Homo sapiens: one gene and its partner. The protein of the gene in region 1 interacts with the protein of each later gene in a pairwise test. Each region holds a gene or a part of one and is shown on either strand. Other genes may lie near its edges. The genes, in order: RBMS1 and TFCP2.

Evidence for each region.
Region 2: the proteins of RBMS1 (region 1) and TFCP2 interact in binary tests that used the Homo sapiens proteins (3 or more experiments, as listed by UniProt).

Annotation. Positions count from the first base shown.
Region 1 is NC_000002.12:160,277,081-160,280,910, reverse strand, and holds part of RBMS1 (RNA-binding motif, single-stranded-interacting protein 1), read left to right. Parts: intron 1-2,252; coding exon 2,253-2,363; intron 2,364-3,527; coding exon 3,528-3,608; intron 3,609-3,830.
Region 2 is NC_000012.12:51,110,435-51,114,264, reverse strand, and holds part of TFCP2 (alpha-globin transcription factor CP2), read left to right. Parts: intron 1-3,281; coding exon 3,282-3,388; intron 3,389-3,830.

The DNA of each region.
Region 1 (3,830 bases):
AGATTATAAATACTAAAGTGGTAGCACATTATTTGGTAAATAACAAATGTGATTTCTTAATGACGTGAGCATTCATATATATTACATTTTTTTAAATTGAATGAGTTATACTTATTATATAGTGTATTTCATGTGTTTTTCAAAGACACATAAGATCTAGTTTGTGGAAGAAGGGTTTGAAAATTTAAAAATACATATGGAGAACAAAGTTACAATAAGGCTAAGGATGTCCAACACAATGACCCTGCATGCTCACATGAGAAAATCACAAATTTGGCTCTAAGCTTTCTAGTAACTGATGCAAAATGGGAATCCTGGTAAGCAATACAGTTCACAATATGTGTAAAATAAAAACAGATTTGGTTGCTTAGAAAAAGAACTGTATTCTTGGCCTTATGTTCAGACAGCAATTTGTCTTCGGATACCTTTTAAAGTGGATACTGCGATGTAAGACCATGTATATGAAATAGCAATCCAGGGATAACAGGTTCTGAATGAGAAATTGCTGAGATGACCTTTAAGAAGCAGATAAAACATGTTTAGGTGATGAAATAGGAGAGGCGCGCTCTGATATATGTATACGTTTTGTGTGATATATACACATACATATAGATCTATACATGTGCACATACATAGACACATCTTCAAACCCACACTTACCTGTACATGTGTACATAATATACATGCACTGATCCACACATGCCCATAGCAATCTGTGTCCCTGATACTCCATGCTACCCTATTTTGGAATGCTTGGAAATCAGCTTGCTTTGAATTTGAGGACTTCCTATTACAGATGGTGCCAATGAATGAGAAAAAGGAGCAGGAAACTGCTCCACCATCTTCTAGGCTTCTGAGTCATTTCCGTGTTACCACTTGCTTTTTGATGATGCATGTTAAAAAAAAAATTTCTAACAGAATGTATTAATGACAAACATTATCTCTGACACACATCTATATCTTTTTTTCTTTTTGGCAACATTTGAGAAAAAGACTGCACGTATCTGAGCTTAACATCTTTGAGGAGACATTAGGAATGTAAGCAGAAGGTTGCTATCTGAGGATTCATTACCTTTCCCCACCCAGCTTTAAACTGCCTGATTTACATCAGAATTAAAGTTCCTGTACACCTAACTCTGTCCTAGATTGTCTATCTAATTATCAATAAATAACAGTTGTATTTAAGGGATGCCAGGTACAGTGATAACAAAACATACATTAGTAGTTACAGAGCGTGTCAGAATACTTGCATTCTCAGATAATGAGGTGATTGCAAAAGTCCAAAAATAAAGAGTTCATTGAATTTTGGTTTATACAATCAATGTAACCATTTAAAAAAATGATGATAATGATAGTTTTTCAACAAGCTAGGTAAATGGTTAGAATAGAATGCAAAGTTAAGAGCAAAATCCCAGGATATGAAGTTGTTGATGTGCTCTGATTGAACCTGTACAGAAACACACAGAGGCTATGATCTGGCAGTAGTACCCTGACATTGCTAACAGTGGTTGTATTAGACTGGCTGAGTTAGAAGCAATTGTTTTTTTTTTCCCTCCTATTTTCCTAAATATATTTAATTTGATTTTAATGACTAACATTTTTTCAAATTAAATAAAAGAATCTGGACTCAGATTATTAATCATATCTGAATTGCCTTCCCTCCCAGGCACCAAAATGTAACTTAAAGTTCTGAGAAACACTGAGTGAATGAAGAAATGTGCTCTTGATCCTAACAACCTGATCTTGAACCAGACGATTATCTGGATAGAACATTGTTAAACAAAATACTATATTGATCTTATTAAATATAATACATTGTTTGGTGACTGGAGAAAACATCAACTGCCTTTTTTTTCCAGATTTTTTTTTAAGAAAGCGTTTTGTAACCCTAGGCAGGCAGTGATAATCAGTTTGTTTTTCCTATGATAGCTCCTCCTGCTGGACTAGCTTGCTTCCAGTTACTGGAAGTGAAGGGAAAGGGAAGGAGAAGAGGGACACTGGCTTTAATACAGGGATTGTTGTGAAGTGAATGCCAAGATATCATTTCCCCTAACGCTCTTAAAAAACTCTCAGGAAGAGCAATTTAGAAGATTTTTAGGAAACTGTTTATGATGCCATTTGCAAGATTGAGGAAGGTTGTTTTTGCTTCACATTCTTAAACAAACTAAGGTATTTCCTTTGTAAAAAGTAATTACAGGATCTTAACTCTTGCCTCAGTTTGTCTAATTTTGCTCCTGTCTCCAACTCCCCAGGGTGCCGTGTTAACTCCCTCAATGGAGCACACCATGTCACTACAGCCCGCATCAATGATCAGCCCTCTGGCCCAGCAGATGAGTCATCTGTCACTAGGCAGCACCGGAACAGTAGGTGGCAAATAATTATCATGTGTCTCTGTAAACAGAGGAGGGTAAATTAATGCAGCCTGTATCTTCCCTATCAAATGACAGCCTCTATGATAACAGATTATGTCTAATCCCCTCTCTTCCCCCCACATGACCTTCCATAAAGTAAATACTCAGCTATTTCTTAATTAATTGATGAACTGAAAGTCTATTCTCTGGGTATCTCTCCTTTACGAGAATATAGCACCCACACGTGACCACATCTAGCCTTTTATGACTAGTGTCATCTATATAACTAGTACCACTGTCCCTGTGGCAGTGTCATGAAGCGAAAGACGAAGGTAATACAAGATGGTAAAAGCAGGGAATTATTTCTCGCTTATTTCTTCTTTTATGGAGTTTGGGAGTATTGAATCATGGTCTTAATATTGAAATATTTCACCAAAGTCCAGGGGACTCCTTTGGGTAATGAGGTTGAGCTGGCACCAGATCAGCTTCCAGATTTGATGCTTAGCATTTTGCTGGTAAGATGGCTAAAGGATTTTAATTTAGCCTCTATTCTATAGTGGCTTAAAAGAACAAAGGGTGGTGCGTTTTCCCCTTATACACTCAAAACCTACAGCTGTTTCTTGTGAAGGCTAAGCCAGGGCCACACATATCCAATGAGACTGACTAGAAATTTCTCCTGCCTTTGGGAAAGGATGACTGTCAGTGTCAGAAAAGCCAGGCTCTGCTGCCTAATCTGCAGTGACCTGTTAGAGGTCTAATAAGTCTTACCCCTGTGGGCTCTACCTGTAGAAACAATACTAGGTACTAGTTTAGGGGGCTGCTAGAAAATAATGAGGTCCTTTGAGGAGAGATCTTCTAAAATCACACATTAGTGATACTGAATTATTGAGAGTGACAAACTTTTTTATCTTCACCCATAATAAACTTTTTTTATCTTCACTTTGTTAGCAAATCCAAAGAAATGTGGAATTTTTAGTTTAGCAGATTCAAAAAGTAGAAAACAGTTTACCTTCCATATGACATATTTATATGCACTATTTAAGCTTTGAGGTGTAGCCCATTTAAATTTCTTCTTTGAGATTTCCAAATACATTATATCCATCTCACAATCCCCCCACGTACTCCAAATTTTGCATGGTTTACCATTGCCCATTCTGACCTCATTCTTCTTTCTAGTACATGCCTGCAACGTCAGCTATGCAAGGAGCCTACTTGCCACAGTATGCACATATGCAGACGACAGCGGTTCCTGTTGAGGTTGGTAGAGACCATCCAGTGACCATTCTGGCTATAAGTAGTTTCAGAAATGGGTAAATTAAATAGAACTCAGAAAAATCTACCAGACGTCAAATATTTGCATAAAGAATTGCGTTTAGCCAGATGTGGTGGGTCATGCCTGTAAGTCCAACACTTTGGAAGGCTGAGGAGGGAGGATTGCTTATGGTCAGGAGTTAGAGACCAGCCTGGGCAACATAGTGA
Region 2 (3,830 bases), on another chromosome or scaffold:
TTGGATTGTTTTGTTTTTTTTGTTATTGAGTTGAAAGAATTTTTAAAATATTCTGGATATTAACCCCATAGCAGATATATCACATGCAAATCTTTTCTGTTATTGTGTGGGTTGCTTTTTTACTGTGTTGATACTATCCTTTGATGCACTAAAGTTTTACATTGAGGTGGTCCAATTTATCTAATTTTTTTTAATTCCCTGTGCTTTTGGTGCCACATCCAAGAAATCATTGCCAAATTCAGTGCCAAGAAGCTTTTCCCATATGTTTTCTCCTAAGAGTTTTATAGTTTTAGGTCTTATATTCAGGTCACAGGTCCATTTTGAGTTCGTGTTTGTATATGGTACAACCATATACAAAAAAGGTTGTATGGTAAACCATATACAGAAAGAAGGGCCCAACTTCATTCTTTTGCATGTGGATACCCAGTTTTCTCCACACCGTTTGTTGAAAAGACTGTTCTTTCCCCCACTGAATGGTCTTGCACCCTTGTCAAAACTCATTTGACCATATATTTGAATACTTATTTGTAGGCTGTCTATTCTATTCCATTTGTTTAAATGTCTGTCTTTATGCCTATACCTCACTATTTTGCTAAGTGTAGCTTTATAGTCAGTTTGGAAGTCGTGAAGCATGAGAACTCCAACTTTGTTCTATTTCACGATTGTTTTGGCTGCTCAGGATCTGATATTTTGTTTTGCGTTTGTAAAGAGGGGCAGACTTTTTTCCCCAGCATGCTGAAAGTTCCTTCATTTTACTAGTGCCTGAGAACCAGGCACTATAAAGTGGGAGTTCTGGTATTAGAAGCTATGTCACTTGGTTTGCAGTTAAGTTGTGTCTTCCCACGTTGCTACACAGAGTAGAATTTGTTTTTCCTAAGTCATAGGGTATAAAGGAAAGATCTTCACAAATACACATGCAGTCACTTTTCATGGTGTCTGCCTCTCTGATTTCTAATTGGTTAAAATTTCCTTTTGGTAAACATAGTTGTTAAGAAAAATTTAACTGCTACTAATTTTACCTGAGAAAACATTGGTTCTCATGCAGTGATCCTGATATCTGTATGATAAGTTGACCTTAAGATGAATCTAACACAACTAATATTGTGGAGTGGGACCCACTTGATGCTCTATTGTTTGAATCATTGATACCAAAACAGTAGTATAGTTAATACCACAGTTCTGATAATACATATTACCTGGCCTTAACTCCCCAGTTTGATCATTAATAGGAGAAATCAGGGAATGCTATTTGAATATCTGCTGTGTGGAATGGAAAGAAAAGTTCTACTCAAACCCATTAATTCTTGCTTCCCTTTTAAGTAAAGATTTGTCACTCTGTTATAGGATTATTTGATGACTTGGTAAGTCAGCATCAACCATCTTTTTTTTTTTTTTTTTGAGACAGAGTCTTGCTCTGTCATCCAGGCTGGAGTACAATGGCATGATCTCGGCTCACTGCAACCTCTGTCTCCCGGGTTCAAGCCATTCTCATGCCTCAGACTCCTGAGTAGCTGGGATTATAGGCATCCACAACCACGCCCAGCTAATTTTTATATTTGTAGTAGAGACAAGTTTTCACCATGTTGGCCAGGCTGGTCTCGAACTCCTGACCTCAAATGATCCACCCGCCTTGGCCTCCCAAAGTACTGGGATTGCAGGCGTGAGCCACCACGCTTGGCCTGCATCAATCTTTATGTTAAAATTTTCCCACTTTCATTCATGATATAATGCTTTCTACCTTCATATAGACACTCTGCTGCACCCCTTCAATAGCAATACTCTTAATGTGCTTTTGGCAATGAAACTAATTTTCAAACTGTAGTTGAAATAGATTATAAATTACAGTTTTCATGATAGTGTAGACTTAATCCACCTTAAATAGGATTTTAACAAATTAAAAGGAAACTGCCTTTAAATTGCCATATTTTAAGCTAGAAGGAGGATACTAAACATTCCCAACACAAAGAAATGACAGATGTTTGAGACAATGAATATGCTGATTACCCTGATCTGATCACTATGCATTATATGTATTGAAACATCACTATATAGCCCATGAATATGTACAATTATTATTTCTCAATTTAAAAATGATTTTTTTGTTTTTCGAGACAGTCTTGCTCTGTCACCCAGGCTGGAGCACAGTGGCGCAATACTGGCTCACTGCAACCTCCGCCTCCCTGGTTCAAGCAGTTCTCTCTGCCTCAGCCTCTCAGGTAGCTGGGATTACAGATGCCCACTACCATGCCTGGCTAATTTTTGTATTTTTTAGTAGAGACGGGGTTTCGCCATGTTGGCCAGGCTGGTCTTGAACTCTTGACTTCAGGTGATCCGCTCACCTTGGCCTCCCAAAGTGCTGGGATAACAGGTGTAAGCCACCACGCCTGGCCTAAAAATAATTTTTTTTTTTGAGATGAAGTCTTGCTTTGTCACCCAGGCTGGAGTGCAGTGGCTCGATCTCCGGCTCACTGCAACCTCCACCTCCCAGGTTCAAGCAATTCTCCTGCTTCAGCCTCCTGAGTAGCTGGGATTACAGGTGTGGGCCACCACGGCCGGCTAATTTTTGTATTTTTAGTAGAGATGAGGTTACGTCATGTTGGTCAGGCTGGTCTCGAACTCCTGACATCATGATCCGCCTGCCTTGGGCTCCCAAAGTGCTGGGATTACAGGTGTGAGCCACCGTGCCTGGCCAAATAATTTTTTTAATTGCCGTATTTTAAAAACTTTTTAAAGAGGAAAAAAGGTGCTCAAGCAAAGTACTTAAGTCAATTTTACTCTAATCAAATATTTTCATTGACAAAAAAGAAATTTAAGGTGTGGGCTGGGCACAGTGGCTCAAGCCTGTAATCCCAGCACTTTAGGAGGCCAAGGTGGGTGGATAACCTGAGGTCAGGAGTTTGAGAGCAGCATGGCCAACATGGTGAAACCCCATCTCTACTAAAGATACAAAAAAATTAGCCGGGCGTGGTGGCACGGGCCTGTAATCCCAGCTACTCAGGAGGCAGAGGCAGGAGGATCGTTTGAACCCAGGAGGCAGAGGTTGCAGTGAGCTGAGATGGTGCCACTGCACTCCAGGCCTGTTACCACTGCACTCCAGCTTGGGCAACAGAACAAGACTCCATAAAAAACAACAACAACGACAAAAAAAAAAAACAAAGAAATTTAGGATGTGATATACAAAAATCTTGGTAGCTACATTGAGTAATATAAGAATCAATGCTTTCTTATTTAAAACTGAGTGGCCCTCAAAATTGTTCAATGATTACCATTTTGTTTCTCAGATATCCCGATGTCTGTGGGTATAATCGATCCTAGGGCTAATCCAACTCAACTAAATACAGTGGAGTTCCTGTGGGACCCTGCAAAGAGGACATCTGTGTTTATTCAGGTAAGGCGTTGCAGATAGGGTTCCAGTTTTGAAGAGTATCTCTCTTACTATCAGTTTATTTCTTAAAGGATAAAACATGTTAACTTTGAAATCTTTACAGGGTTCTAGCCTGACTGTCAAGCCCAGGCTCTTTAACCTGTGCCTGAGAGCATTGAGGAGTTTCTGAATTGCTCTTCTAATACCCCAGTTTATTTATTTGTGTCTCCCAAAATTGCTTGGTAATGGCTGCATAATATTTCATTTCTTGGTTGTACCATAATTTACATAACAATTATTTGGCAGTTAGATTGGCATAATTTTTTTGGGGGGGGACAGTGTCTAGGCTTTGTCTCCCAATCTGGAGTGGAGTGGTGCAATCTCGGCTCACTACAACCTCTGCCTCCCAGTTCAAGCGATTCTCTTGCCTCAGCCTCACCAGTAGCTGGGACTAGAGGCGCATGTC